Linked DNA regions of Homo sapiens: regions 2 and 3 are each reported to be linked to region 1. The links are microRNA targets in miRTarBase. Many come from high-throughput screens and were not tested one by one. Region 1 holds a microRNA gene; each other region holds the end of a gene's coding sequence.
Evidence for each region. The annotated mature microRNA hsa-miR-374c-5p reads AUAAUACAACCUGCUAAGUGCU and lies in region 1 at 7,053-7,074, shown strand. An mRNA with a match to its seed (bases 2 to 7 or 8) in the 3' UTR can be bound and repressed. Matches are read on the target gene's strand: a 7mer-m8 pairs with bases 2 to 8, a 7mer-A1 pairs with bases 2 to 7 and ends in A, and an 8mer does both.

Region 2: miRTarBase lists UTP15 as a target of hsa-miR-374c-5p. Seed matches in the 3' UTR shown: 8mer at 8,438-8,445, 7mer-m8 at 8,107-8,113, 7mer-A1 at 6,914-6,920 and 7mer-A1 at 6,890-6,896.
Region 3: miRTarBase lists C21orf91 as a target of hsa-miR-374c-5p. Seed matches in the 3' UTR shown: 7mer-m8 at 7,567-7,573, 8mer at 7,428-7,435, 7mer-m8 at 7,335-7,341, 7mer-A1 at 7,035-7,041 and 7mer-A1 at 4,471-4,477.

What each region holds. Positions count from the first base shown.
Region 1 is chrX:74,211,509-74,222,592 of GRCh38, forward strand. It overlaps MIR374C (microRNA 374c), which reads left to right and starts at 7,041; the gene lies at 7,041-7,110. The region is part of intron 5 of FTX (FTX transcript, XIST regulator); the gene reads right to left. It overlaps MIR421 (microRNA 421), which reads right to left and starts at 6,953; the gene lies at 6,869-6,953. It overlaps MIR374B (microRNA 374b), which reads right to left and starts at 7,110; the gene lies at 7,039-7,110. RefSeq lists an enhancer at 10,655-11,084.
Region 2 is chr5:73,577,506-73,588,589 of GRCh38, reverse strand. UTP15 (UTP15 small subunit processome component) reads right to left here. Exons shown (of 13, transcript NM_032175.4): 9 at 10,585-10,734; 10 at 9,738-9,839; 11 at 9,440-9,573; 12 at 9,215-9,273; 13 at 5,210-8,713. The coding sequence ends at 8,496. Among named protein-coding and RNA genes, the nearest start is that of UTP15, 17 kb to the right of the region's middle.
Region 3 is chr21:17,784,844-17,795,927 of GRCh38, forward strand. It overlaps C21orf91 (chromosome 21 open reading frame 91), which reads right to left. Exons shown (of 5, transcript NM_001100420.2): 4 at 10,365-10,427; 5 at 4,131-8,738. The coding sequence ends at 8,572. C21orf91-OT1 (C21orf91 overlapping transcript 1) reads right to left here and starts at 7,666. Exons shown (of 4, transcript NR_038871.1): 1 at 7,634-7,666; 2 at 2,185-2,367; 3 at 705-769. The region is part of intron 2 of LOC124900465 (a long non-coding RNA gene); the gene reads left to right. RefSeq lists enhancers at 316-375, 9,117-9,286.

The DNA of each region.
Region 1 (11,084 bases):
ATATTGCTTGATTCCACTTATATGACCTTCTGGAAAAGGCAAAACCATAGGGATGAAGAATAAATTGATGGTTTCCAGAGATTGAGTATGGGGTAAGGGGTTGAATACAAAAAGAGCCACCAAGAGAAATTATTAAAGTGACAGAACTTCTCTGTATGGTACTAGTGTAGAAGATACATGACTGTGCATTTGTCAAAACCCATAGAACCATATACTAAAAAGAGTGAATTTTACTGTGTGTAAATTAGAAATAAAAATTTTAAAGCAACAAAGGTATATTTTTACCTATTAAATTAGCAGAGATTTACAAAATTAGAAAGGCCATGTTTTGATGAATATATGGAGGGATATTCACATTTATACACTACTGGTGGGAATGCAATTTGCACAACTGTATTGAGGAAAATTCAGCATCACCTGTCAGATGCTCTAATAAATGCTCTCATCATCCAAACTAAATAATTTTAATTCTGGAACCTTATTCTAAAGAAATAATTCCAGATGTGCATAAAGGTTAATGTACAATGATGTTCATTACATTTAAATTTTATACGCAAACTTGGTAATAATCAAAATGTCCAATAACATGACATCATCTAAATAAACTTTGTTAAATCCATAAGATATTATGGAGCACTTAATATTGTATTTTTCAAAGAACAATAACATGGAAATATGCTTGTGAATTTTCAAATGAAAAAATTAGATAATAAAATGATATATACAATATGATGTCAATTTTGTTATAAAACTGTGTTATATACATAATTTTTAAAAAGAATGAAAGGACATACACCTGAATATTACAAATTAGTTTTCTGGCTTATAAAATTATACATATTATTTACTTTTTAATTCATACTTTATTTTTTAACAATGATCACCTGTTACTTTTATCATGAAGGAAAACTTTTTTTTTATTTTTAAAAAACAAGCCCAGCCCAATCTAGCCAAGCCGATGACCTTTTCAGTTGCTATCTTCACTCAAAATGCCACACTGTTGTCCACTGGGTGCTTATTGTCCTTTTGCTCCTTTAGGGACCGCACTCACTGGTGATAAACACCCGCCAAAGTGAGAGTGCAGGTGGCAGCATCCTTCCAAGCTCATTAAATCTTTCAGTTAAACTGGCCTAGTAAGCCATAGGCTGATACTGGGATCAATCTTCATGACCCATATAGGGAACCAATGTTTTGAGAAGCTATAATGCCCACCTTATGTAATTGGGAGTTTCCCCTCTTCTAAATCTCTTCTATGAAATAATATTTTGCAATCCTTCTCCAAAGCAACTCTTTTTATTTTAGATATTCCATCATGCCATGGGGAATGACAAATAGTAGGTCCAAGGATAGACTTTCCATTGTACTATTTCCTTATCCCAGATGTGGTGTTTGGGGATGCCTAGAGCCATTCTGTCCACTGTTCCTGTCTCATCTCACCTATCCAATTTTTTAAGCTGGCTATTTAGTACTACTTGTACTATCTCCTGTGTACTTGATCCCTTTAAGAGGGTCACAGACCCCTTGTCACAGAATCAAAGAATTCCTCTAAGTTACAAACCTTGTTTTGGGTTGTTTCTAAATTGGGTCAAGAGAAACCTCCTCAAGGGCAGCTTGACATGAGAATAGTGGCTGGCAATGACTCTCACAGTAGCAACAGAGGTATTACAGCGCAACAACTTCTCTCCAATCCACATTAAAAAGGTATGGATTTATGAAGTAAGTCTCACTGCCTGCTTCAAAGGATTACTTCAAATCCATTGAAGTAATAGATTTTATGGCATCTCTCATTTTCTCCCTTCCTTCCCTCCCTCCACTCCTAAGGGCAGTAAGTTCACTCCTATCTTCATTTACAAATATCACAGATCTCAGGTTTGCCTCATTCATGTAAGCTTCTAAATCCAATATCCACTAAATTATGTCAAGCATCTGTAACTCCATTATGGAATTTCATAGCCTCCTCTTTCCTCTCTATTTTTTAAAATCTTTAAAAATACTTATTTCAGTAACTTTTGGGGTAAAAGTGGTTTTTGGTTACATGGATGAATTGTATAGTGGTGAAGTCTGAGATTTTAGTGTACCCGTGGTACTGGTATAAAAGTAGACACATAGACCAATGGAACAGAATAGAGAACCCAGAAATACAGCCAACTATTTACAACCAACTGATCGTTAACTAAGCACACAAAAATATAAACTGGGGAAACAACATCCTACTTAATAAATGGTGCTGGGAAAAGTAGATAGCCCACATGTAGAAGAATGAAACTGAATCCATCTCTCTTACCTTATACAAAAATCAACTCAAAATAGAACAATGACTTAAATCTAAGACCCGAAACCATGACATTTCTACAGTATAACCAGGAAAAACTTTTCTGGACATTGGCCTAGGCAAAGGATTCACGACTAAGACCCCAAAAGCAAATGCATCTGCCTCTCTTTTTATATCCAAGGGCAACATGAATGTAACTCGCAACACTCTCTAAGGTTTCATTCACTCATTCACAATAAAACTTTCAGATGGGGACTTGTTAGAGACAAATGGCTTAGGACGAGAGAAAGCAAAAAAGACCTACTGAAACTCATCAAGGTGGGGAAAGAAATGGAGGAAGGTCAGTGAGGGCAAGAAATTCCCTAGGATGACTCTAGAAAAGAAAAATGAGGCAAGAGCCAGGATAAGGTGACAGAAGATGTGAGCAAAGGTCTCCTGGGGATTCATTAGGAATGTATTTGACTCAGGCACAGTGGCTAACGCCTGTAATCCCAGCACTTTGGGAGGCCGAAGGCAGGCAGATCACTTGAGGTCAGGAGTTCAAGACCAGCCTGGCCAACATGGTGAAACCCCATCTCTACTAAAAATACAAAAATTAGCTGGGTGTGGTGCCATGTGCTTATAGTCCCAGCTACTTGAGAGACTGAGGCAGTAGAATTGCTTGAACTCAGGAGGCAGAGGTTGCAGTGAGCCAAGATGACAAGATGGCGCCACTACACTCCAGCTTGGGCGACAGAGCAAGACTCCATCTCCCCGCCACAAAGAAGGAATGTATTTGAAACACACAAGAATTTCCACTTCCCTTATAACCTATCCTGCCCATCCTCGAGAGACAAAAACTAACCAGGACTCCTGATATTGTTTCTGTTCATATCTGTATGTCCTAAAACAAGGACATATCTGATGACCAAATCAGAAGGGGGACCTGGGATGGGGAAAGCCCTCCTACCAGTATTTCATGATCAGTTGAGACATCAGGCATAAATCCTGGGGCTGGAGTTCGCAGAGTTGCTGGCCTTGACTACATCTCCAATGGCTGATATGAGATCAGGTAAGGCGTGGGCATCAGAGTAATCAATTTGAGTATTTTTCAACTCCAGCCATAACTATGACAAATTCAACCTCAACCTTAGCATTCATGCCTCTCTGGGTCTTAAGTGATGGGACGAAAGTGCAAATGAAAGAAGAGGGTGGCTCCCAAAGGCATATACGTGGGAAAGAAAAGTGCCAGTGGAAGGAGAAAGTTATGGCTTTTGTTTGATCTCATCAGTGATATGTCTTACTTATAAGGCTTAAGGAAAAAGTAAACAAATATGAGCACAAGGATTGGGTTTACTTTCAAATCAGCTGACTACTCTCCTTCTATGAAGCTGGGTCATTTATTGCTGAAATCCAAACCCATCTCTGGTGGCCTATATTCCAGCAGTGGGGATCCACAACATTATTGAAGGCCAAACAGAGCAAGTACTCTACCATGTTTTAAGAATTTTTTTTCCCGTAAACATGGGGAGCTGTATGGGAAGTAACTATTCATATACACATATCGGTGAGTACAGTAACTTCTGAAATGCGACAAGAGAAAAGAGAAATCTAAGCATGCATTTGAAAATAGCAACCTGTGATCTGGAGAGGATCTTAATAGTGATCCATTTGTTGAATGATGCTTTGTGAAGCTGAGATGAAGAGAGGTTGTAGTCATCCCCCGCTACTTCTTTCCTTTTCTTCTCCCTCACATTAAGTCTTCTACCAGCTCCTCCTGAGGAATAAATACAAAGCAGCCCCTACAAGAGGGGATGGGTTGTCTGAGGGCCTGATCACTTTAACACAGTAGTTCTTAAACTTCTTTTGGAATATTGAGTCATTTGGAGAATATAAAAGACATGGATCCTCTCCCCAGTAAAATGTACTCAAAAGAAAAATGTCTGCATGCCATGTCAGAGGTTTTATAGACTCTCTTCTCCTAAGCTTTACCTTCCTTGTCCTTAAGGCCATCTCTGTGCCTCAATTGCCAGCCCTCTTCCCTAACAGCACAGGGAAATTCTACAATATGGACCACTAAACTGGATGTATTCTGACCCTAGAGTGGCTTTTACAAAGTAGTTGTTACTCACCTATTGATGTGAGCTTTCTTTTGTCTACCCTTTATCCTAAAAAGCTGAATTAATAGGATTGTGTCTTGCTCCGGTTAATCAACATGTGTGTACTATGACTGGTTTTTTGTTTTTGTTGTTGTTTTTTAAGAGCAGCACTAGCTCACTCTTCAACTCAGAGGCTCAGAAGCCAAAGTACATTATGGAACATGGCCAACAAATGCTTGTAACATGTAACTAACTTAGGTCAAGATCAAGGAAAAATTTAGATCCTAAATAAATCTTTTTATGCCACTTCAAGCTGACCAGCCTGCAGCTCTTTGAAAGAGTTAGGAGACGGCCACAGGATTCCAGCAGTGCTAAAGGCCAACAGCTCCCCTAGCTGTTCTCACCAGGAATTCTTGCGCATTCTCCCACTCCTGAAGTGTGACAGACCCAAAAGAGGGAACAGATGGCATATAGCAAGGTGTCAGGCATAGAGCAAATACTCAATAAAAGAAGGAATCACCTGGATCCCCCCACTCTTCTAAGGCTCATCTACTATCCCACTACAGCCTTTCTTCTCTAGTATTTGCAGTTAACATGTGCCAACCTCCAAGTCATTCCTCACAGTCACTGAAGCCTTTTGTACCTGGCCCAGTGTTCATTCTAAGCCTAGCTTCTACTATAATCCTGGGTTACTATAATAGTCATGTAAATGATCATCTGACATCCTAGCTTCACAGGTATCTTAACCACTCCAGTTTTGAAATCTAACACTCCAAAGTCTACTCTGATTACAGGTCCTATCACTCCAGTTTTCCAATTACTCAGCACTCACCTTGTTCACATTAAAGCCTCTTTTTGGCCCAGACTGAGGCCACTCCTGACCTTACTTCCTTCCATGTCCAGGTTGGATTTTTTTTTTTAAATGAAGTCTCACTCTGTTACCCAGGCTGGAGTACAGTGGGTGGGATCTCGGCTCACTGCAACCTCCGCCTCCTGGGTTCAAGTGATTCTCCTGCCTCAGCCTCCTGAGTAGCTGGGATTACAGGCATGTGCCACCACACCTGGCTAATTTTTGCATTTTTAGTAGAGACAGGGTTTCACCATGTTGGTCAGGCTGGTCTCGAACTCCTGACCTCAGGTGACCTGCCCACCTTGGCCTTCCAAAGTGCTGTGATTACAGGTGTGGGCCACCGCGCCCGGCCTTAGTTTGGATTCTTAAATCCATTTCTGTGTAACTCGTCTCTTGCTAGCTGTCCACCCCTCAATCAATCAAGGCAACCAAATACTGCTAGTGACAATGCCCCAAAACCACTTCATATTTTCCTGAGCTTCTAACCCAGTTTCAAACTCATTTCTTACTTTGATATACCATAAGCTCTCCTGTTAATGGTCTCACTCCAGCGTTTTGGCCTGAATATTCCTTAGGGACTCTGGTTCATATTTAGCCCTCTAGTATTTCTGTTCCAGCAGCTTTTGTCTTCATATTCCTGTTCCTGGTCAGCTTCCTCCCCATCATCCACCTCTACAATTACAAATCTTCACCACCCTTGCCAAGTCCTCTTCCTTACTCCTATCCCTATCTCTGTGCTCCAGCAAAGAGGTAGTTCCACTTACCTAAGGCTAACCCTCCACCTGCATGTGTTCTAGAGCCATAAATTTCACCCTTCCAGCTTCACCTGCATCATCTTTCAAGATCATCTTCCATCTATTATCATCTCTCTCTTTCTCACATCTACAATGACTCCCTTCTCAATTCCTTCTGCCCCATGGTCTGCAAACACACTCAATTTTTTTCTCATGTTAAATGATTCACTGTAAGGCGCTGGATAAGTGGTTTTAACTTGTATTCTGGTTGTCACATCTACAATCAGAAAAGCTTCTCACAAAATAATGATTAAGTACAATAAATAAGATAAAGAAAATATGAACCTGGTGAGAGGTGAACAGGACGGTGGAGGATTACCTGTCAGTGCAGGTAAGGGGATAGCTGGAGTAAAGTTGAAAGGGGAAAACTTTAAATATCAGCCACAGGAGCAAACCTCAGACTGTGAGGATGAGGTTTCTGTTCAGACAATGAGCACTCTGGTCCAACCCAGGGAGCAATTAGCAGCAATTACAGTAGCAGCAACAGCCATGCAACATCAGCAAGTAGCTAAGACCAAAATGCAGGCATAGAAATGAAGTATTTCATAGAAAACAGAGTAGCAAATATGACATATGAGGCACTTGTGCTGCTACTCCCCCTTCTCCGACCCTCAGCAGACATCACTAAATAGTTATAAATGTCTTTCACACTGAGATAAGACCTGGTTTCAGAATCTTGTTATAAAACATAATCAGGGCAGGCATTATCAATCAATTGGAGATGGTACTTGAGATGAAGTGTATTTGCTATCATTGCACTACACAGAAAAGTCCTCAACAAAAGAATTAGAAGACAGGAATAAGCTTCAGGAGTAAGCATTCTGAAGAGAGCTTGGACGTTGTTGGCAACTGGCGGGGACAAGCTGAGCCCATGGAGATCACAGAGCAGGCGCCCAATTAATGTCTGTTGATGATTCATTTTTTCATTCAACAAACATTTAATGAGGCCTACAATGTGCACCGGATTAGGCACTGTGAATACAAAGATGAGTAAGGCACTGTCCTTGCCCTTAAGGAATTTAAAGTCTGGTAGACGAGAGCCATAGACACGGACAATGATAATACAACCTGCTAAGTGCTAGGACACTTAGCAGGTTGTATTATATCCATCCGAGTAGGATTTCTTCAGAGGAGCACCACTCCAGGTTGCTGCTGGATCCATGAAGTCCTCCCAGGCACCAGGGTCTGCTGTTGTTTTTGTCACGTGCTGGGTGTCCCAAGATCTAACAATAATAGCTGTAATTAATGTATAGAGTGCCTATGACAAACACTTTACAAATATCTTCATGGAAACTCTGAAAATTAATAGTTATATTAGAGGAAGAAACTGAAGTTCAACAAGTTTAAGTCACACAGCCAGCAAGCAGTTGAATTAGGTTTCAAATCCAGTTTTGACAAAGTCTAATGCATTTTTCTGTTTTCAGGATAACCTTTATGCAGGTGTAATACAACAACTTTTCAACAGCTTTCTATTTGGAACTAAAAGCAAAGGCAATAGATTAGTCACTAGATCATGGAGTGATTAATTTGGTTTCCCACTCTACCTGGCAGAGAAATAAAAGGTGAAATGACCTCACACTTACATACCATTGAAAACCTTCAAGTCAGTTACTGTTTTTCTTTCTCAACCCTAACATCGTCACTGATCATTCAAAATATAAGTACCTCTAGTCAAATCTCTTCTTTTAATACTTGTCATAGTCAACACCATTATCAGCAACAACAGTTGACACAGCATTTAGCTGTATATTCCAGGCCTGTTCTAAGCAATTTACATAATTAGTCCCTTTAAGTACTTTTTACCCCCATCATTGAAAATAAATATTATTCCTATTTTACATAAGAGAAAACAGAGTCCTGGGGAAGTGAAGAATCATGCTCAAGACCACATTGCTAAGTGTGAGAGCAGATTTGAGCCCAGGCTACCTGGTCCCAAGACCCAAACTCTCACTTTACATAGCTCTGCTGCACTGCTCAGGGCCTCCTTTCCCAACTCTTGATGGCAAGTTACACAAGGCCCCCTGAAAAACCCAGTCCTACTTACATAAAATCTCATCACTAACCATTCTGGTCATAGAAAGCCATTCTCTAAATCCCAAATATCAATACTCAGAGCCTTAATTGGAAAATTTCCCGAAGAACATTGAGTTTAGAATATACCTTTGCAAAAAGAGAAAATAAACACTCGATATGTTTAGGTTTTTAATTATTGAATTTTTTTTTTACTTGCAGATATAGTCATAAACGTTTTAAGATCCATAAGCAAACTAAAGCAATTATGCCAATAATGACTAAGGCCACTGCTTCCTCAATTGAGTCTTTGATATAAAAGCCTTCACTTTTGGTTAATTACAAAAAAAAAAAAAAAAAAAAAAAAAAAAACCGTGGGAGATATGTGACAGTGAGAGTAGGCCTGCTACTGATGAGAAGGACCAGCAACTTAGCAACACCATAAAATGTCTGCTGCAATTCAGGTGTCTAGGTGTCTCCCTGAGAATCAACATTTCATATACAGCTGTTCCCAGAAAACAATCTTGCACAATCTGTACAGTCAAGTTATGATCTAAAAGGAGTTAATTGCAACATTCATCCAAAGAATATGACAGTATTTTTCATCAAGGTCTTTTTCTATAAGTTTTTCTATAACTTTTCCTATAAGTTCTATTATGTCTATACAGTCATGTGCTGCCTAACAATGTTTAGGACAATGATGAACCTCATATATGACAGTTGTCCCACAGTTGTCCCACCACAAAATCATATCATATTTTTACTGTAGCTTTTCTATGTTTATATATGTTTAGGTACACAAATACTTACCATTCTGTTATAATTGCCTACAGTATTCAGTACAGTCATATGCTGTACAGGTTTGTAGCCTAGGTGTGTAATAGGCTATACCATTTAGAGAGGTTTGTGTTAATATACTCTATGAAGTTCACATGACAAAATCGCCTAACAATACACTTCTCAGAACATATCCCCATTGCTAAGCAATGCATGACTAAATTTTTATAACTTCCTAAGAGGTTATCCCCTCTTCGCCACTCCCACTCCTTTCAGCCCTACATCATTTCTCATCTTAGCCACCACAGTATCCTTCTAACTCATCTCCCTGTCCAGATTTGAAAACATTCCTGAACACACCCCACACTACTGCCAGTGATCATCTAAAAGCATCCCTTTCTGAAAACACTTATAATGAAATCCAAATCCCATGGCATACCATATAAAGTTCTATTCCTGGCCTACATTTCCAACCTAATTTAGAGAACTATTTGTAGTTCCCCAAACTCATCATACTACTTCCAATGTCCATGCTTTTGCTTGGAAAGCCTTTCCCTGTTTTTCACCTAGTCAAAAGGTGACTTTACTTCTTTAAAGACTCAACTCATATACCAGGTACTCTGAGCTCTGTCATCTCCAGACTCTGTAAAATGATTTCTCTTTGAACTCCAGAGTATCTTATACATACCTCCATTGTAGAGCATACCATATTGTTGTAATTATATGTGTACATAGATGTTGATCTCTCTCACTAGACTGAGAACTCCTTGAGGACGGGGATGGTGTCTAATTCATCTCCATATCCCCACTACCCAGCACAGTGCCTGGCAGCTCAAATGACAGCAGAGAGGAGAGATGCTGAATATGCAGGAGTGAGAATAAAGCAATGTTCTTGAGTAGTGGTACAATACAAATATGCTGAATGAATTGAAGCTATAGAAAAACATTTTGGGGCTCAATGTTGTAAAGAGGTCTCAAAAGAAGGGACAAGCTAACTCAAGGAGGAGTCCCCAGTTACCAAGTAAACTTACTCAGAAGTTAAAAGACCATTTGTTGGGTATGTTATCCAGGGACTTGAACTGGGGTTAGTTTAAAATAATCTATTTGGGATAGGAGACTTTTAAGGTCCTCCCATACTGGAGCTTCTAAATCTATGATCAGTGCCACAGTCAAGAGAGCCATCATTCTGAGAGCCTATGTCACAGAGTGAATGGTGACTCCCACAGTTGTGGACAAAGGCTAAAAACAGATCACAAACTTATAACTCATTTGGTTGGGTGTGGCGGTTGACACCTATAATCCCAGCACTTTCGGTGGCTGAGGTGGGCAGATCACTTGAGCCCAGGAGTTTAAGACCAGCCTGGACAACATGGCAAAACCCCATCTCTACGAAAAATACAAAAATTAGCCAGGCATGGTGACATGTGCCTGCAGTCCCAGCTACCCAGGAGGCAGAGGTGGAAGGATCATCTGAGCTCAGGGAGGCGGAGGCTGCAGTGAGCTGGGATTGTACCACCGCACTCCAGCCTGAGCAACAGAGTGAGACCTTGTCTTAAAATGATACAAAAACAAACAAAAAAAAACCCTCATCCTCTGTTGATCCTGTTCCCAATTGACCCTTGAACCTGGCGCAGGAAGTGTTTTTAAGGCCAACAAGAAGGACATCATGACCCTAAATATATCCTCTACAAGCTGCTACCTAATGTTTTAAATTCCCCCTTAAACCTTTGGTGCCTTTCATTCATGTTTGCTAAAATGCCACTTAATCTAATATGTTGAGCTAGTATCAATTAACTTTACACTACACAGTAGATACAGGGAACACACCATCCATTCCCATACCCTGTGAGATCATCTAATCCAACCCTCTTGCATTAACACAAATCTAAGAACATCCACCAAATGTCCAGATTTTTAACTCTGGTACTCAGTTTCTTGAAGTGCAAAATACAGAAGTTGTATTGAATAATTCCCCACATCCCTTCTTCTCATGATATTCTAAAGAGCTTCTGAGCCTGTTTTCCACCTATAAATTAGACACATTGGTGAATCTGTTCTTATTCCTAACCAAACTGTTATAAGGGTCAAATAAAACCATGTTTGTAAAAAGCTTCTAGAAACAATAAAGTACAAAACTAAATCAATTAACTAAAAATAAAAATAAAAAGGTTGGGCTCGGTGGCTCACCCCTACAATCCCAGGACTTTAGGAGGCTTAGGTGGAATGACTGCTTGAGCCCAGGAGTTCAAGACCAACCTGGCCAACACAGCCAGATGCAGAAAGGAAGGAAGGAAGGAAGGAAG
Region 2 (11,084 bases), not on the chromosome of region 1:
GCTTTTCAACTCAATCTCCCTCCCTTTCTCTCTCCCTGCCAAGGTAAAGAAAATTATCAAAAGCAAGTATATGTTGAGGGCTGGGCTTTTTAATAAACATTACTGAGTTTCAAAAGCAGAAACTCTCTTCCCCACCTCCCAACTCTCTCTTACCTGGTTCATGTTCAAAAACAAAGTCCACCGTTAGTCACAGTGCTTACATTTCAGTGCATTGACTAAAACATAGACACATTATAATGGAAATAATTCAGGGGATTCCCTCTTTTGATTAGAGAAGGAAGAAGAAGGGAGAGAGGCCTGACGATTCTGCAAGCATTAGGTATTCCTCCAAAAAAGAGGAGGGCAGCCATTGAGGGTGGTAGGGTGTCAGCAAGGAGGCTGAGGAAAACAGAAAGTCTGCAATGGCCACAGTTTGCCTAGAACTCACCCTGCTGTTTCACTGTATCCTCTTCAATCTCAGTTTCAGTGTGCAGCTGCCTGTACTCTATTTAGAGAGGATGTGAGTTAAGCATTTCTAGTTAGAGTGGTGAGAGCTTCCAGGGCATGGTGGTGGCTATCCTCAACATGAGAAGTCTCAAGACATCAGAGGGCTGCTTCATTCCCCAATGTTATCACAGCCCAAGGACCTCAGGGCACACAGCTTATGGCCTAGAAACATCTGTTAAATGAATAAACAGAAGAATGCCAATGTGTGTGTACGAAGTACGTTGCTGCCTCAGCATCACCCAAGACTACTGAGGTGAGGTCCCTCTCCTCCAGCCTGGTCAGGGGAGGTAGCACATGGATGGCAGTCCTAAAAGACCTCTCCTCAGACCCTGAGCTGCTAGAGAAAATGCCTGGGGAGCTGGTGCCAAGCAACAGGGCTGGAAGAATCAAGCCATGGGAAGAGTTTATGAGCAAGAATCAGTGAGAGGAAGAAAACTCAGGGGCAGATCTGGGGCAGTCAGGGCCAGGGAACTAAGTTAGAAACAGATGGGCCAGAGCCAGGAAGGACCAAGCCAGTGGCTGCGTTGGCAGATAAAGTAGCTGCCAGATGAGTACTTCAGACCAGATCAATGAAGTGGACTCAAGTCTCCAGAAAGAAAGAGTTTGCACTTCTCCAAAGGTCCAAGGCTGTCTGGTAGAAACTTCTCCAATTACGGAAATGTTCTGTATCTGTGTTGTCCAATATGGTAGCCACAAGCCACATGTGGCTATTTTCAGCCATCTCAAAGTGTGGCAAAGTGACTAAGGAACTGAATTCTTAATTTTAATTAATTTTAAGATCACTAGAAAACCCTTAGTAGGGCCAGGTACGGTGACTCATGCCTGTAATCCCAGCACTTTGGAAGGCCAAGGTGGGAGGGTCAGTTGAGCTCAGGAGTGGAGACCAGCCTGGGCAATAAAGTGAGACCTCGTCTCTACCAAAAAAAAAAAAAAAATTAGCTGGGAGTGGTGGCGTGGGCCTGTAGTCTTAGCTACTCGGAAGGCTGAGGTGGGAGAATCGCTTAAGCCTGGGAGGTTGAGACTGCAATGAGCCATGATCGCACCACTGCATTCCAGCCTGGGCAATAGAGCAAGACCCTGTCTCAAAAACAACAACAACAAAAGCAAAAACAACAGAAAACCATTAGGAGAAATTGCTCAAGACTTTAACTCTGTACCAAAAGCACAATGACCCAGCAGGAATCCCTGCCTCTATGTTCTCAGGTCAGAGTGGAGAGTGGCTGGATGTTTGAACTGTGTAAACAGATGCAAAAACAGTTGAGGAATAAACATCGACTGAAAAAATAAGTGGCGACAGGCTCTGAATCAGAATCAAGATCTCCAAAAAAACCAAATTTCCAACCGAGGATAACATCATAAGTATTTCAAGCCAAAGACCCTTCTACGTGGAAGCTGCCTGAGCTAAAGCGAAGGATGGAAGGAGGGTTTGGTCGTTTCACCTCCTACATTATCACTTCCATTCAGTTGCCACCATGTCCTTTTAATTCCCCCTGACACTGTGATAGACTGTCTCCAGGGAGTGATGAGATCAAATGTTTCTGAAGACCACTCTAGCCATGATACGGAGGATGGACTGGAGGACTGCTAAGCTGGAGGAGCTGTAAGGCAGGGTGCTGCAGAAGTCCAAAGGAATTGGGGCCACAAAGAGATGGCGATGGGAATGGAAAAACAAAAGGACATCTAGGATGTGGCAGCTGAGGGTTATGTTGAAAACTGCTTGAATATGGGAGGAAGAGAGAGAGCAGAATGAGGATGAGGCTGTCTCAAGCAATGATAAATGGTGCAGGTTGTAAAAACAGACTACGTGAATCCAAATCCTGTTTTGTTGTTGTTGTTGTTTGTTTTTCACTTACAAACTGGGTATCTGGAGTGAACTTAATCTGTTTTCCTGTTTCTGTAGAAGTGATTGCCCCTCTATCACCCGCCACAGCACCTGTGTGGCAGGTGTGAAGAATGGTGCCCAGAATTCTACAAGCTCCTGGGGAGAGCTCACTTCTCTCCCTCCCTCACACCCAGCATCTACCTGAAGATGATCAGGGCTGTCATCATGCCCTCTAACCCTCTTTATGCCAGTTATTGCCACAAGAAGCCAGGAACCCTAGATCATGCCTTATCTCCTAGACTCCATACATCCTCTCTTGTGGTCCCATTTCTATCCTTCTCTAGCTCATAAAACCCTTTGCCTCTGCCCTCTGGGTCTCACAGTCATCAGCAACAACCCTCAGACTCTCAACCTCGTGTTGACATTCTCTCCACGCCTTTGATCTGAGCCTTGGCTCTCTGCTGAGGACACTGTTTCTTCTGCAGCCCTCTCCAGTGCTGCTGATGGTGTTCTCATATCTCCTGTACAACTCCTAACAGTTGTATAGGTAATCCTCAATGCTGTTTCCAGACCATTCTCCCACCTTCCTTCCCAAGAATGCCTCACCACTGAATCTCATGTCATCTGACTATATCCCTAATACCTCCCACCTTGTTGGTCACCACACATCATGAGACCTATCATGTTTTCAACTTTTTAGCTCCTGGCTTGCTGTCACTCTTTCAAATACTGCTGTTGTCATAATGCTTAGTTCTCTCAACATCTTTCATACCTCTGGCTCGCTATCTCTAGTAGGCAAACCGCAACTCTTCAACCACACACAGACCAACAATCCATTGATCCAGGTGTTCTCACTGTCCTCAATCCCATGTGGCCTCCTTTCCATACTTACCCAGCTTAGCTTCCACGCTCTATCATTACAATCACTCCTTTGCATCAATCTTAACACTACCTTTGTCCCTGCCCAGTTATGTTGCATTCACCTACAAAAACCCCACTGCTTGTTAAATCCGTATCTCAGTCTGTTCCACATCTGCCTCCTAATAGGTGAATGTAAAGGGAAAAACATGCCACCATGCTGATGGGTCTCAGTGTAAATCCAGAACACTCATTCAGTTCCTTAGTCATGTGGGCCTCTAGTGCTGCCAGGGACCCTCCTTCATTTTCCAGTCCATTCATTCCCCCCATCATACTAGCTGACAATAGAAATATTCTAGGGGCTGGATTGAAGGTAGTGTTGTCTCAATTGATTGTTCAGTCAGTTACAGATAGAATTCCTTGTTCTACTCTCCCTTCTCAACACTGTTCTTTAAAAACAACTTTTTAGAAGAAATATTCTAGGTACATTTATGGGTATTAGCACAATTCTCACAACTATCCTATGTGATTCTGTTTGTCTGATTAACAGATGAAGAAAATGAGATACAAAATGTCAAAATAACGTCCCCCAGATCGTGTAGCCAGTGAGTGGTCAAGCCAAGATTCAAATCTATGCAGATGGCTCCAAAGTTTGAGTTCTTGACCTTATTAGGATTAATTCATATCTTGTTATCTCATCAAACTTCCAACACCTCCACCTGCTCTTCCTCTAACCTCATTTCAGTTGGTTACCTTCTTGGGTTTTTTCCAATGAAGAGACACCAAATTAACTTCCACAAACCCTCACTATCACCTCTACCCACCTAATTGCCTCTGTGCCCGTATATGCCTTCCCTCCTGAACTATGCCCAAATTATTATTCTCCTATCTTCTCCTATCTAAACCAACCCTTCCACTTGGGCACTTGACCCTTGCCACTGCTCCAGCAGTGCCACCTCCCCTGGATCCTATATCATGTTTTTCCTTCTCTACAGGATTATCCCCACTGACACACATTCATTCTGTCATTGTTGCCAACTTAAATCTCAAATTAATTATAAATCTCAAAACAATTATGCTAAGTGAAAGAAGCCAGACCCCCCAAATCCTAAATTCTAATTCCATTTTATAAAATTCTAGAAAATGAACACTAATCTATGGTGACAGGAAGTAGTTCAGTAGTTGCCTGAGGCGAAGGGGCCAAGGGATGGATTACCAAGGGCAGGAGGAAACTTTTGAGGGTATTAAACATGTTCATTAACTTGATTGTGGTTTCAAGGGTGTATAAATGTCAAAACATATCAAATGAACACCTTAAATATGTGTAGTTTATAGCATATCAATTATACCTAATTAAAAAAAACTCTTGACCCCACATACCTCCAGTCATTGCCCAATTTTGTATTCCCTTTTACGTTAAAACTCCCTAAAGAGCTGTCAAAATGCACCATCGCCAGTTTCTACACCATTCTGTATCTTACTACTCTCCCCTCCCTTGCTCCATGCCAGCTAAATGGGCCACCTTGCCATTCCTAACTCCCCAGGCACACTTCTCCACTCTGCCCCTAGATAGCAATGAGGATCCTTCACTTCCTAAAGAACTTTGCTCAATTGCCATCCCAGTGAGGCCTTCCCTAACTACTCTATTTAAAACTCCAACCCACCAATCACCCCTGACATTTGCCATCTCCCTCCCCTGCCTGATTGGTCTCCATCTCATTTAGCACCACGTGACCCCACTACATATGTACTTGTTCACTGAGTATCTCCCCTAATCAGAATATTGAGGGAGATATTTTGTCTATTTTGTTCATTGCTATAACCTTGATACCCTGGCCTCTAATGTGTCTCAATAAATATCAGGACCAGTGGATTAGTGTTTTCAGAGTCATTTGGTTGTAAATAAGAGAAAACCACTCACAGTCAACTAAGCAAACAAGTGTTAGAGGGAATCCAAAAATATCATGGACCCCTGGGGGAAGAGGTACAACCAGAATAGGGCAATAGGAAGTCATCAGGAACTAAGATGGTTTCTCTCTCCTCTAGTCTGAACTATTAAAGCAGGATAATCTTTATTTTCTTTGCACTTAGGTTTCATTCTTGTTCATTCTCTACAAACCAACTTTCTCCGCTGATGACCTAGACATAGCATTCCCAGCCTCCCATTTTCCCAGATCAGGAATTTCATTATAAATCCCAATTACAAATCCCTGCTTAGAGAAGGGTTGAGTCAGTTGTACCACCATGGTCCAGTTAACTATAGCTGAGGGAACAGGCATGCGGCTTTTTAATGTCTAAGAGGGTATTTTGTTCCTAGAAAATGAAATGCCCTCATTGAGTTGAACAGACTAAATTTGTTTTAACAATCCCATTTACAATTCAAATTCCTTTAAACAACTTAATAGCATTTATACATTTAAAAAAATGATTCTTTTAAGCAGCATTGCAAATGCTTGACCCCATTAGCATAAACCTTCCCAAGTGCTTAAATCTCATAAACATAATAAATTAAACATACGGTGACTTTCCAAGTTCTCTGAAACATTTCAGTACTTTTGCAGACTTAGTAACATTTTAAAATACCTTTCAACTGAAACTCATAAGTCTAAAAGTCTGTTAAGCATTTTAAATTAGAATCTTAAGGCCAGTGTCACATATTGTAATATGCCAATTATGTTTAAATACTTCAAACAGCAAATACTACAGTTTATCTCAATGAATATAATAACCATTCCTGCTGGGCGCAGTGGCTCATGCCTTTAATCCCAGTCATTAAGGAGGCTGAGGTGGGAAGATTGCTTGAAACCAGGAGATTGCCTCAGGCCTGGGCAACATGGTGAGACCTCTTATCTCAAAAAATCAAAATAAAAAATTAGCTGGGCATGGTGGCTCATCCCTGTAGCCCCAGCTTCTCAGGAGGCTGAGGTGGGAGGATAGCTTCAGCCTAGGAGACAGAAGCTGCAGTGAGCTATGATCACACCACTACACTCCAGCCTGGACAACAGAAAGAGACCTTGTCTCTAAAAACAAAACAAAACAAACAAACAAAAAAGTACTCCTGAATTTAAGTATTGATGGCTATGGGAATTGCTTCCTAACCTGTTTGAAAAATGTGTTAACTGTTACATATTTTGAGAACTGCAGCACTCAGTGAAGCTTTGTTAAAGGGAATGAGGAGTTTAGGCCCCAGCAGGCAAACCACTTCACAGTGCTAGGATGAAGAGCTCACACTCAGGGACTTCGAGAGTGAATCAACTACTTTCGTTAACTCAATGTTAAATGAGAATAACATCAACCTTGGATGGTTGTGGTGAGAATCAAATGAAATGACATATGGGAAAACCTTTGTCACATGTTACACAATTGACGGCAACTACAGCTTTAGGTAGAATTTCAACTTCTAATTTTTACTACTATGCAAATTATCAGAATATTTATGATGTTAACTTTTTAAAAAGGTTTTTAAATAGAAACTTTATTTAAATAAATGAACTCTTCTCAACCCCAAAACCCAGCTTCTGATCTTGACTAAGTTCATAATTACTCAGGGAAAAACACTGCTGGTTCCTTATAAGCCACTGTGCTGTACGAAATCAATTCATGAAAAGGAAACGCCCTATTTCCAAGCATACCTGTACTAGAATATATTAAGTATATTCACTTAACATATTAATTTAAATGTTAATGTTAGTCTAAATGTTAAATTAATTTAATATGTTAAACTTAATACGTTTATTTAATTTTTACTTAATACCCTTACTGGAACATATTAAGCATTTTTTCGGCTTAAAAAAAACAAAAAAACAAAAAAAAACCCTGAATTTACAGAACTAAAATTATGAGAGGAGATTCGCATTACAAAATCTTCCTCTATGGGTTCTTCTAGCTCAAGACATTTTTCTTACTGATTTTTAACTACTTGAGTTGGCGTAATAATTAGAGAAAAGCAGGAGAGGTAGCAACTGTGAAACCAGTGTACTAGGAGTTACTAGCCAATGATTATCTATCAGGAACAGATACATCAAAAAGCCAAGAAAATAAGAATCTCTCTTTATAAAAAAATAATAGTTACAGGCTGGACACAGTGGCTCACACCTGTAATCCAAGCACTTCGGGAGGCAGAGGCAGGTAGATCACTTGAGGTCAGGAGTTTTAGACCAGCCCGGTAAGGTGAAACCCCGTCTCTACTAAAACTACAAAAATTAGCCAGGCGTGGTGGGGCACACCTGTAATCCCAGCTACTCAGGAGGCTGAGGCAGGAGAACTGCTTAAACCCGGGAGGGCAGAGGTTGCAGTGGACTGAGATTGCATCACTGTACTCCAGCCTGGGCGATAAAGCGAGACCCTGTCTTTAAAAAAAAAAAAAAAACTTCTAAAAAATAATTATTTACATTAAACTTTTAAAAACAACTATTTTTCAAAGCAAACTGCTCTGCATTGGGGTTCCGAAATACAATATGATTGTGAATAATGGGGGGAGGAATCTAAATACAAATCAGAGAAAACAGTTTTCAGAGGATTAGGTAGCTTAGCTACAAGATTAGCTTGAAACATATGAAGAATAGTCTGAAAGGCTGTTGTAAGAAAAATGACAAATTCTATCATTCCTCTGACCTGAAACAAGGTGAAAACTTGGTAGAAAGGCTGCATGAAGAAAAAAAAAAAAGTAGTCCAATAAGGTCTATCTGTAGAGCTTGCTCTCACACTCTGAATACAAATCTAGCTAGTGTCAGTTCTTCAGAGCCGAAAACTTACTTGCCACACTTGGAACCGATGCAGTCCCATTACCAGCTGAAGCAGGGCATGTGATCTAAGACAAGTGTAGATATCAAGGAGACAGGAAGCAAGCTAAGCAAGGGCCTAGAAATCCCAAAGGCACTGATTAAAGTCAAGAAAGAGGCTTTTTGTTGTTGCCAATTGTTTTTGTTGTCTTCCAGAGGTAATACAAGGCTTTGCTCCTTTAGCAGGATTCCCAGTTGGACCCTCTCCAGAGAGGATTCATATTTGAATTCCCATCTGAATACCAACCCAAATGTTGATACAGAACACTCCTGTATTAAAATTAATATCCATCCCAGATAAACCTACTCTGTGACTAAGACAATTGAGATCTTCTAGGTGAAGATGCTATAATTCAAAATATTACATGGAAAACCATGTCTTACTTAAAACGGGTACTTGTTTTCCGGCCATAATTATTCCAGTCTCTTCCACAGAACTGCTTCTGCAAACAGTTTTTTTAATGTATCAAAGAGAGTCTCTCGCCAACATTTAATACAGTCAAATCTATTCCAACTTCAGAGTTCTTATATGTCTTATTTAGCAGACACTATGATTCTATCTTCTTATTCTCTGGAAATCCATCAGATGTGTGTTCCAACACAGAAGTGCCTTCCTTCCTTCTCATGGTGGCAAAAAGCATATCCATCATCCCCAAGGTTTCTAACAATTCTCTTTGGTAATCAATCTCTTTTTCTACAAGTCCTTGAAGTAGTAAAAACTTTTTATCAACTACAGGGGACTGACCAATTACAGGCAGATATATATCTAAAAAGAGAGAAAGAAAACACATTAACTAGCAATATCTTTCCATACATTAAGTGAAAAGCAAAAGTTTTTAAAAGTATAAAAATATTAAACATAAGAACACTGAAAAATCTGTACTTATTTTATAATTAATTAATGATTTATAGAAAGTATAACAATCCCTCTGAGTAAATTAATTTCAAAAAATAATAATTACAGAAAGTATAGGGTGGAGTTCCTGACTTATTTTCATTTTCCCATTTGAAAAATTGTCATCGTCATTATAGATGTCTATGAAAAAAATTTTTTATAATAACCCTAGTCCCATCAATTCAAAGTCACACCACTATAAACATTTTACTACTTTTTAAACTGCACTGACTTGTTGTTTTCTCCATGAAAATCCATATTGAGATTTGATAAAAGCAAGATATTTTGATCTACTTGATTTCCAAATTTGATTATTTGACATCTCTACTTTTGCAAGCATGTTAGGATTTTCAAGTTTTAACAATGACTTACCAATAATTATTTCAGCAGCATTGATTAAAACAGGGGCAAATCTTGGCTGAGAAAGATTCCTACAAAGTAAAAATTCAGTTTAGTGAAACTTGTAAACTTAAAAAAAAAATCCTTAAAACAGATTTGTTTCATCAGTTCTCTACAAAGATCAAACTAAATGTCTTTTATTTGGTGATAAAGGATTTCAGATGCAAAATGTAAGTGTTTCACAGACAAAAAACATACCTTATCAAAAAATTAAGAACATGACTGATTTCCTTCTCATCCCGACCTGCAAGCGCATTTGCAAGGACTCCTCTTCGATTTAACTCCTTTATGATGGACACCGTAATCTCGGGTGTCTTTATTGTACAAGTGGGCTAGAAAAATTTTCAAAGTCAACATGAGTAGACAAAACAGCACAAAAAAAATCACTGTCTTGCACTAAATTATCAAGTTTGAATAATATTTATCTTCACAGTTCCAAGTCATGGTAATATGCAGGGTAAGTAATAACATGATTTTTTAAAAAATGCTCACTCACATCAAGAACTCTATCGAGTGCCTTAGAGATCCGAAAATGTTTCAGATCCCTGTCATACAATTCTAGGTGCTTCTTTGCTGGCCTGTTAATCAAAATGTCATCCTGCAATGAAAAGTACATTTATAGAGAAGGAAAATCAGCATCTGTGTAAATATACATTTAATATAAACTTTTTCATAATGAAGTGGTATCTCTGAACTATGTCACAAATAATGTTCATATGCCCATAATGTAGATTAAATAAAAATGCATCCTGCTAATCAGAGTCAAAAAAAGAAAAAAAAAAAGGAGTAACTTGCTACATCAACATGTTCTTACTCTCTTATAATTTTAACTTACAACATGCACCATTGCCTTAATTCTAGGTAAAAATTACTCATTTCAATTCTCTTTATGTGGCAGGCAGTGTGGTACAGTAGAAAGAGAAATCAAACAACAATCAGAGATAATGAGATCTAGTCTCAACAACTCTGGATACCAGTAATGAAATCCTGAATCAATCACAAATTATTTGTCGCTCAGTCTTCTCAGGTGCCAAACAGGGACATGATTGGTTCTACTACTTCTTGGGATTTAGATCAAATCAGGTAGTATGTGAAAGACATTATTTTGAATGCAGTAAAGCATTATAACATTATGTTATGATGCAGAGTATTACATAAAGTAGTCCTTGTTCCCCATTACTCATCAATAATGTCCCCAATCTAGCAATCTAGAAATAATTCTGATGTAGAGAAAAGCAAAATAAAGTGCCATGTGAACTACGCTTTCCAGTAATGTGCAGGGATGAAGCTGGCTACTCTAACAAATTTCACCCTTTAAACAAATATGAGAAATGCACAAATACCCGTTGCTTCATGTAATTTTTTCCTTTAATAAAGGTTCGATATGCAGGCCTTCTTCTTCTGGGAAGTGATTCCTTCTTTGCTTCAGATTTCCGATGTTTAACACTCAGTATTCCATTGGTCATTCCTACAACTATTGTCTCATCTTCATGCTAATAACAATTAGAAAAATAAGTTAGTCTATTCTTAACTCGTAATTTATAGTACTTTTACTTCAAAACACATTTACCATGTGTTTGCTGCTTGTCCATACATTCACCAACAGTTCCATTCAAATACACATAGTCTGCCTAACGATGATTGGTGCAAGACGTTAAAGCGAAATCATTTTTTCCTTAGGATACAACTACATTGACAGAACTTATACTTGTAAAATATCACTGGCAAAGTTTGTATAATACATAGTTAACGGCATCAAAGATTACACAGTAGCAAGACTTTTATGATCTTGCCCCCCAAAAATATTTTTAATAAGCTTTTCCTCTCCCAAATCAGATTTCTA
Region 3 (11,084 bases), not on the chromosome of region 1:
TGAGTCATGGTCCCTCATTTCCACCTCTTCTAAACGGTCATGGTTGCTCATTTTCACTCTTCTAAGCACCTCTTCTTTACAGCAACAAAATCAGAAAGCAAATTCAGGCAACCTTAACCAATGGTGAGTCATGGTTCCTCATTTCCACCTCTTCTAAACCCCTCCTCTGATGGTCAGGACCCTTCTCATTCCTCAAGTAGTAACTATTCAGCACTTTACCACTTCCCTTGAATCTCTGACCCATTATCTTTTTCGTCTTTCTCACAGAAAATAGAGGCAGCCATTTAAGTACTTTCTCAACTTACTCTCCAACAAATCTGATTCAAATACTTTCATCTGTAGTTTTACCTTCTCTCTAGTGTCAAAACCTGAGGTAATCCTAAACCTCTTCAAAGACAAGTCATTCTCGGTGTGCTACTCTGTTCTGTGTCTTCAAACTGGGCTCCTTTGATTATTGCTACCTCTCTATCGTTAGCCTTTCTACTGGCTCTGTCCTCTTAGTATTTATTCATGTTCAAGTACTTCCCAACCTTAAAAAAATAACCTTGACCCAACATCCTCTTTACCTCAACTTCACTTCATAAAATTTTAAAGACATCATACCTCAAATCCACTATCCTACCTGTCTTAGTCTATTTTATGTTGCTATCACAGAGTACTACAGAATGGATAATTAATAACAAACAGTTATTGATTTGGCTTACAATCCTGGAGGTTGGGAAGTCCAAGGGCATGGTGATAGCATCTGGCAAGGTAGCAAGACTTCATGCTGTGTGATAACATGGTGGAAAGAGCAAGAGGATGTGAGCAAGCAAACAAGAGGGGGCTGAACTTGCTTTTATAACAAAGGCACTCTCATGATAACTAACCCACTCCGTCCATAACATTAATTCATCCGTGAGGGTAGAGTCTTCATGACTTAATCACCTCTTAGTAGACTCCACCTCTCGATGCTGTTGCTTTTGGGATTAAGTTTCCAACACATGAACTTCAGGGAACACATTCAAATCATGGTACTACGTTGCATCCATATTACAATCTGTTGTGATCTACTTTTGCTCCCACAGGTCCATTAAAACTGTACTCCATGAATTTCTGGTTGCTAAATACAATGAACATTATTCAATCCTTATTCTTTCAATCTCTTGGCAGAATACTTTCCAGTTGACCAACAGAGTCTTGTTGGCTTTTATATCCCTTAGACCCAAAGACTTACAGGGCTTGGCAGAGTTTCTGGCAACATAACGAAATCTGAAAATTGACGAAAGATTTAGAATGGAAAATAAGTGGATGCCAAATGGTGAAGGCTTTAAATGCTAAACTGTGGGGACTGGCTTTTGTTTTGTAGGCAGTGATAATCTAGAAAGGTCTCTTAGCAGGAAAGTAGCATTACCACATCTTTTGGGAAGTAAATTCTGGGGCAGTTTATGGTTTGGAGCAGTGGTTTCCTTTTTCTCTTTTTTTTTTTTTTTTTTTTTTTGAGACAAAGTCTTGCTCTGTCACTCAGGCTAGACTGCAGTGGCACAATCACGGCTCACTGCAGCGTTGACCTCCTGGGCTCAAGCAATCCTCCCACCTCAGTCTCTGCCCCACCAAGTAGCCAGGACTACAGGCCTATGCCATCATGCCAGGCTAATTTTTATATTTTTTGTACATACAGAGTCTTGCTACATCGCTCAGGCTGGTCTTGAACTCCTGGACTTAAGCAATCTACCGGCCTTGGCCTCCCAAAGTGCTGGGATTATAGGCATGCGCCAACGTGCCCATCCTAAAGCACATTCTTAACAGGAAAACTGACATCTGCATTACCAAGAGGTTTAATTTCTCTTCAGAATCTTCCCAGCAGATTCAGTTGACTCAAAAGGCAGCCCATGTGGCTGAGGGTTAGTTTAGATATGCATTGGCTCTTAGCAGTTCACCTCTGGAAATGAATTTCATAAGATCTCAGAGTAGAACACAGGACATAGACCCAGTGGAAGAGGTTAGGTTTAACAAGAGTTCTGAGTTGCAAGCTAGAGAAAGCAACTAGTTGACTTAGGCTATAAAGGAATTTATTCAATGGGGAGAGATCACCCAGAAGGCTGGGAAACCACGCAGGAACAAAGGTGATGTAATCAACTACTAGGATCACAGTCTAATGTACACAAGGCAATGGCTATTCAAACACCAATGTCAGGAACTTACCTGTTGTACTCACTGGATATGGGATAATGGCTGTTGTCCCTGCTGACAGTTAGCCATTGATGCCCTCAACACAGGCCTTCTCCTATCCAGTTTCTTTGCTTTACCAGTCAGGGCGAGGTGCCTCAGATACACAGGAGGTTGAAGTTTTTGCTTCTAGAGGTGGTGACTTGTGCCATCCAAACACTAGAAAGGGATTCAGACGTGGAAGAACAGCAGAAAACCACAAAACCAAAATCAAAAATAGAAAATAAAACCCAAAGACATAAACTTGCAAGGATCCAATGCATCACTTTTATCAGATTCTAAAAGCAAAACCTTTCGAACAGGTTTTTATGAATTTAGAGTATCAATATATAAAACAGGCCTTGTTCTGCCTGCAGCTCCCCTTCCTATTCTATCCATCATCCACGTATGACTTGTCGGCCTCTAAGACACCTGCAAAGAATTTCTGGTCCTATGATACATTAAAAATTAGGGGAGAACAAACCATTTTACAAATAGTTTGAAAATTCCCAAGAAGGCTGGGAAACTGAGCATGAGCAAAGCCTAACAAATTCAGGCTTAGAAAAGTTAGTTTCTCTTAATGTCAGTTAGTTAAAGCTAAACAGGAGCACTTCATTTGTAGTCTGGTACTCTTTCCAAACCAGACTCTTGGTCTCCATTTCCTCTCCTGAAAAACAAAGCAGTATGACTATTAGACTTTGAAGAGACTTTCAAAAACGACAGATTCTTCTAGTACCCCACGAAATGTTTCAATTCTCCAGCAGTCCTTATTTTGTAATTTGCCTCTGAGCTTTTGTAAAATCATCTGTTTCCTAGTTTTAAACTGCTTGTTGCCATAAAAGCATCATATAAATGACTTTAAAAATCATTTGTGGAAAAAAAACTGGTAATGTAATATTCAGATTCGTAATGCTAACTAAAAGTGACCTTGAATATTTTGTTGTATTCCTATTTTAATATTTTTAAAGCCGATTTAAAAATATTCATATTCATATAAGCCCCAAACTAAAAACAACTCAAATGTCCATCAACAGGTGAATAATTAAATTATGATATATTCATACAAAGGAGCAGTACTCAGCCAAAAAAAGAAAAAAAAAAGGAAATGAACTATGAACTATTACTGATCTTTGAGCTAACATGGATGAATTTTAAGAACATCCAGTGGAATGAAAAAAGCCTGGAGCAAATGAGCATATGCTGTATCACTACATTTATGTAAAGTTTTTAATGCAGGCAAATGCAAAGTACAGTAATAAAGATCAGAACAATCAGGCCAGGCGCAGTGGCTCACACCTGTAATCCGAGCACTTTGGGAGGCTGAGGCGGGCAGATCACCTGAGGTCAGGAGTTCAAGACCAGCCTGGGCAACAAGGCAAAACCCCGTCTCTAGTAAAAATGCAAAAATTAGCCGGGCATGGTGGTGTGCACCTGTAATCCTAGCTACTCAGGAGGATGAGGCAGGAGAATCGCTTGAACCTGGAGGTGGAGGTTGCAGTGAGTTGAAATCGTGCCACTGCACTCCAGCCTGGACAACAGAGTGAGACTCCATCTCAAAAAAAAAAAGGATCAGAACAATCAGTGGAAGGGAAATAAAAAGTGAAGTGACTGTGAGGGGAACCAAAGGGAGTGATGGCTCTACAGTTGCATACATTTGTTAAAATTCAAACAATACAGTAAAATGTTTGTGCTTACTGTATATAAATTACACCCCAATTAAAAAAAATTGCATACACATCTAGTAAGTCACAGGCAACTTATTTCCTGCTTCTGTATTGTTGGGAAACAGAGAATATTAAGTATCAGAGATAAGGTAAGATTATTACAAGAAATTGTCAGATAAGATCATTTATAGACTCCCTAAACCTGCAAAGCAAAACCATATAGACCCACTATTTAAAAAAATATAGCTACTTTTCAAAGCATCCACTCAAGCTAGCAGATAACAAAATACTTATTTTATTGTTGTAAAATTAAAAATAGTAGACAAGCATATATACAGTTCCCAAGCAGAGCAATACAAATATATAAATTATTGCAGTTTTCAAAGAAAATATAACAGCCAAATAATTGCCTACTTTTTTGAAACAAACTTGGTTTTTACCACAGCAGTTTCATTTTCTTTTTCCAAAAGTCTTAACACAATTTTGTAAAGTAAATTTCTAACACCAGAGAGATTAAGTTCAATGACCATAGTATACGCTACTGTTTTAAAGCAAGGTTCACACACACACACACACACACACACACACACACAAAATGGAACTGAACAAAAGTCACTACTTAATACTTTCTAAATTGCCTCTTTTGGAGGTACGGTGAAAGAAAAACATTCTAGATGCGTCTGAAAGAAACAAGGTACACACACTTACTAAAATTCCCCTTTGCTTTAGGTGTAGTTGAGGGAAGTTCAACTAATCTTTAAACCTTTTTTGGGAGAGGGCAATACTCATCTTCATGAATTTTTGTTTACTTTGGTAAACTTAAAATTGTGAAATAATTAAATATTATTAAAATGTATTAGTAATGTGGACTCAAACTAAAAAGAACAGGGAAAGTGTATGTTAACAAACTAGATGTTTTGGAGACTTGATATAATATGGTTCATATCAATGTTACCATAGCCAGAAGTTGCTTAATAGGTTAGACTGCACCATAATCAAGGCAATTATGAAAGGATGAAGTGAAATGAAAATACTGAGATGCAAGCATTATAGCCCTCCTCCAAGTTACCTTTATTTTGTGTGAGGGCTCTAGTATTCTGGTAAATAAACTCTTCCCTGCCCCATGACCACAAAACTTTACTTGGTAAGAATAAACTGTTGGGGGTTTTATCTCTTACTAATTCTCACCACAAATTTCCTCAAATAGTTACTCCCACCAACGTAAAAGTTAAAAATACAATCATACACTGAAACGGCATCAATTATCTTTGCCTTACATCTGAACAAAAAGTATTAACTTTTTTATAGCGTATTACACTTCTTAATAAGCACTTAGTAACAACATTTGTCAGTAAATGAACTGGCATACATCAGAAAAAGTTGACAATAGAAGAATTTTACATGGTACCATTTCAAATTTTCATGTACAAGTAACCCACTTTATGGTCACTAACCTGAACCTCCTAATAAGCTACACAAATAATTTACTCTTTAAAAATTCCTACTTTAGAGCATTTACATTTTATAATTTAATAATGAAAGCAGATTCTTCCAAAACAAAACAAAACCCAAACTGGGAAACATTAAAACACAAATAGATCTAAAAGCTTACTTTAAAAAAACTACAAAAATGGACTAACAAGCCTTACCAGTGTAAACACTAAGGTAAAAAATATATAAACAACATAAAGAAAACACAAAACCATTTTCAGTCATAAATATAGTAAAATGAAAAACCAAATCTCAAGATGCCTGTCAAGATATATTTGACTATATATTTTGACTATATTTCTGAAATCACTAACATGAACTTGACATTGAAAAAATAATCCTTAAATGTATATAAAAATGGGCACTTTGTGGTAAAATGAACATGTGTTTTGAAAAACTAAGAATGTGTCTTTGCTCCACCATTGTGCATAGTCAACGACACAACAAAACACTATTCTGCTGCCTGAATCATCTATTACTGGAGTCTCAAGTGCATGCCTTTTAAAAAAGACTAATTTAGATATTAATATGAGGATCAAAGGATAAGATGATAATCTCAAAGTAAAACATAATTGATTTTTAGCTTCATTATAAGGCTGAACTTTAAAGAGAACAACCTGTGTGGTCAAAAACACTTTTCTAATTTTTAAAACTCAATTTAACGTGTCAAATTATAAAACTGAACGTGAAAAAGATTTGTCTTATCTCACTCCCCTTAATCATATAAGCTCTGAAAATTTAGTAATGGATGACTGGCAGTCTGTTTTGCCACTTTTTAAACAGTAGTACATGAGATATGCTTCAAAACATTCTCAAAAATTACTAACAACTGTAGAGAATAGCCAAGTGTGGAAAACAATATTTGTGATATTTCATGTTCTCTTGTTAGAACTCAACTCTGTACCTGATACTTATATTTGCATACACAGTAATTGCATATTTGATTAAGAAAACTAACATAGGACTAAATTATAAGTTTACCAAACATTTGGATAAACTGCTGTGCAAAATACTTCAACAAAAAGTTTTTTTTACTAGGAACTCATCCAAATAAAGTAGTGTGAGTACCAGCACCACAAAGTTTTTTTTAAGAGCACCTCTCCTTTTTAGAGCTTAAGTAGAAATATCTAAATGGAATAAATCAGAGTCCCACTTAAGACCTTAGCACATGCACACGTTCATCCACTTGTTCCGTACTCATTAGCAAAGCTATGTATATTTGTCAGAAAACTCCTTTCTTTGGATAACACTGTTGTATTCAGGACTGCAACTTATGGCTCATATTCTGGAAATATGCTACTATTGATATCAAATGCAACATATCCCCAACTTTTATGACTGTCCCTAACTCATCTAAACACAAACCCAAATGTGTGCAAACACACTGGCTGGTAACAATCTTACTGAATTACGCCAAAAAAGAGTAAAGTCAAATTTGAAAATGTGGGAACAATTAAGCACTAAGATATTAATCAGGAAATGTATTTACCCAGCTTGTAAGTTTGAATATTTTGATATTGCACACATTTAATTTAAAGCTCATCAAAACTAAGGCAATGCATCCATACTCCCTGGATTTTAAATTCATTTTGCATGACTTAAAGAATTGAGAGAAATCGAAAGCATCTTTCAAAAATTCCCTCCAAAAAGTAATGTTATACTTCAAAGAAAAACAAAATCAACAGATATCAATTAATACCCTCAGGCCAATTTAACACGTCAGCATTACAAAAAGTTGTTTTCAATTAAACTGAAGTGTTTCTTTGCTTAAATACTTTCTTGTGTTCAACAACAAAATCTGACCCAAGCCAGGGTAGGCTGCCAAATTTAAGGCAAATGTCATTTATATCTTTATGCATGAAGCTGCCACGTTACTGGGCTTTTCAGCAGATACTTTCAAGCAAGGATCTACCTCATAAGTACATTCTAAACATGAGTTAAAAACAGAATTTAGAGCCCATTTTAATTCTGCATTGGTTATAGCCTTTACTGTAATACATTATTAAAATTTATCTAGCTGTTTGGCACAATCTGTTAGATAAAAACTCTTTGGAAGCATCATAGGCAACTTACGAGAACATTCTCTTAATACATAGGTTTATTTTTTTTTAATTAGGAGTTTTGCTTTTCTTCTGTAGAACAATCCTATATTTCTCTATAGAGTCTAAAGTTTAGAAAAATACCTCACAATGCTTTCTTTGAGCACTAAGTTCAATGATGGTGATAATACAATTTGGACAGTTTAAGTATTCTTGAAACTTTACCCAAAGTGGCACACAAAATAATCTTACTTTTTTTTTTCAAAGACAGAACAATTTCACAGCACACTCAATTTGAAGATAGACATTATATTTGAATTGGAAGTGAGGCTTGACTTACTCTGTCCAAATTCTAATGCATCACAGTCACTGGTGTGAAGCTAATAATGAAAGAAGCAAGAGGAGGCTTTCATTTCTATGGAGACAAATTGACATAGAAGCCAGATTAGTCTTTTCTTCCTGAACTAAGAACTGCTTTTGTTAGAAAACAAAATAATGTATTGTATTTACCTGAATACTGCTTTAAAAAGTTATTAATTCTTCTTTTACAAGAGGTATTAGAAATTAAAACAACTCAGATTTCTAATCCAAAATATATTTATCTTTGGAAAGCAAGGTAACCGTTGTGAAAACATTGTATTAAGAGAATAAAATGCAGTGACCTGAAATATGGGTGAACATATTCACACATGATAATGTAAATAAATATACAGAACCACTCAAATACACATTTATAAAGAGAATGGCAAAGTACCTAAAATAGCATTTTCACATATAAAATTTTTATATTAAAATATTGCTCATAATAAATAAGAGGTGATATGAATTCCATTTCCCTCTTAAAAATTATCTCTAGTAGTTTACACTAAGGAGTTAATCTGTTGTTTTGACAGGTGAATTAAAATGTTTAATAAAATGACACTGTAACAGTATATTTAAGTAGTCACATGTGATAAAATTTGTTTAGTAATTCTGGGAAAAAAGAGTCCCCAAATGAGCCAAAATGATTAGCCCTAGAAGACTAGAGTATAATGATCTGCTTTATTTGACAAAGATGTTAAATACTGCCTTATGTTTGGCAAATTTAATGACCATAAAAAAACGGACCACAACTTTCTTCAAACTTCTTCAAAGTTTGCATGTCTGGGAGACCAATAAAGGGCAGGGCATACGAAGTAAGTCTGTTTAGGTCAGTTGTTTATGGGTAGGTGCGACTTCATTCCTGTTCGCCCTACTTGCAGACATGGTAACTTAGAACAGTTCTTCAGAAGCTGTTCGATGGCAACGTGGCGGACATGGAGCTGTGAGGCCAAAGAATCTTTTTCTTGCACTTGGTGAGTTAACTCTTCAAAAACTTCTGTAAAAGATTTAAAAACTTTCATTTTTAGTATGCAGAAAGCCGGTGCTATGATTTATATTTCAAGAACTCTAACTGAAATCTATGCATTGGGCAAAGTGTCACAATGAAACTGATTTGATACCAAGGAAACAGTTCTGTTCTCTACAAAGCATATCAGTTCTGATCATCCTAGGCATCTGTATACTTTACATAGCCAAATGGAATTTGGCTCTTCTCCATCAAGTGACTACAGAGATACACAGCAAAAATGGTGGTTGCTACTGTAGCTGAGCTACTTTTCTCAATTAGAATCTATAAACAGATTCAATTAGTACATAATGTGATTTATGGACAAGAAGTGCCTGTTAGTATTCAGGTCTGGAACCCCCTCTAAGAGGCTTTGGAATCAGACTACTAAGAGTTTTGAATCCTTGTTCCTACTCTTACGTGCCTCAGGCAAGCAACTTTTGGTTTCAATTTCCTTTTCTGTGTAACATTAATAATGATAGTAAGCACTTCACCAGGCTACTGTAAAAATTAAATGAGATCATATTTGTAAAGTACTCATAAATTTCTACTACAACTATTATTGTGATTATTTTTATTATTCTGAGAGGCTGTGTGGTTAAGCTTTGGAGTTTAAATCCTTGATCTGCTACTGATTGGATGCATGATCTCTGTAAGCAACTTAACATCTCTGAAGTACAATTTTCTCATCTAAAAGGAAATAAATTGAAAAGGAGACAACTGCGGAATCTGAACATTACTTGTTAGTGTTAGCATTATACTTGATGACGTTAAGGAATTATTAACTTTAAATGGTGTGATAATGAGACTGTGACTGTTTTTTAAAAAGTTATCTCTTTTAGAGGAAATCCTAAACTATTTATGGACAAAAAACAGTGTGTTAGCTAGGATTTGTTTGAAAATAATCCATGCTACTGGTAGTGCAATGGGAATGGATGCAAGTAGAGATACTGATTATTATGCCTTTGCTAACAGTTGAAGCTGGTGAAAATGGCTTAAAGGGTTCACTATACTAGTCTCACTACTTTTATATATGTTTGAAATTGTTTATAATTTAACAAAAAAGACTAATATCACATGCCTTAAAGAACTGTTTGGGAGGACTCCCACATAGTGCCTGGTGCAATAGTGGGTAGTCAATAAAATGTTAGTAAGAGGTGGTAGTTTCCATTTTCACTTAGAAAAGAAAAATGTGGCTGGGCGCAGTGGCTCACACCTGTAATGCCAGCTCTTTGGGAGGCTGAGGCAGGAGGACTGTTTGAGCCCAGGAGCTCGAGATCAGCCTGGGCAACATGATGAAACCCCCTCCCTATAAAAAATAGAAAATTAGCTGGGTGTAATGACAGTAAGTCCCAGCTACTCGGGAGGATCACCACTGCACTGCAGCTAGGGTGATGAAGCAAGATTCTGTCGCAAAAAAAAAAAAAAAAGGAAAAATGTATTTCCTCTGCAGTTGAAAGTTGTTTCTTTCTTATTCTTTTTGCTCTGGAAACTCTAACAGGTTTGAATATCTCATTTCCAAATTTAAATGTAGATAAAGCCAGTGGTGTCCTATCATAGATGATTTTCTATGTCAAAATTTGTCACACACAAAAAAGTACTGACAGTGATTCTTACCCTGGATTTGCTGTAGGAGCTTTGCATTCAGTTGCTCTACCTCACCAAGAGTCATCGAATTCACTGAAACATGAAAATGTATTCACTATTACCACAACAACCTAGGAAAACATGCTGCTTACATCACCAACACAATATCCTATTTTTAAAAATCAGCACTTAACTGCCAACACAACATTCAGCAGTACTCCAGTATTCAACCATTAACGCTCGTAAGTGTGGAGTAGAAGTTTTCAAACCCTGACCACAACCCATGGTAAGAAAATTTTATTTTTATTCTTTTTTGAGACAGGGTCTCACTTTGTCACCCAGGTGGCAGTGCAGTGGTGCGATCAATGGCTCACTGTTGCCTCAACCTCCTGGGCTCAAGTGATTCCTCCCACCTCAGCCTCCCTAGGAGCTGGAATCATAGGCGTGTGCCACCACACCTAATTTTTTTATTTTTTGTAGAGATGGGGTCTCCCTGTGTTGTCTAGGCTGGTCTTGAACTCCTGGGCTCCAGTGATCCTCCCACCTTGGCCTCCCAAAGTGCTGGGATTATAGGTGTGAGCCACTGTGCCTGGCCAGAAACATATTTTTTATCACTCCCAGTACATCACCACCCTCCAATGAAATAAAAGTTTCACCAAAAAATAGTAGTAGGTCCAATGAATTCTGGTATCTCCTATTCGGTTTCAGTTTTTAAAAAGTGTTAGTCACTACCCATTAAGCTTATTTTGA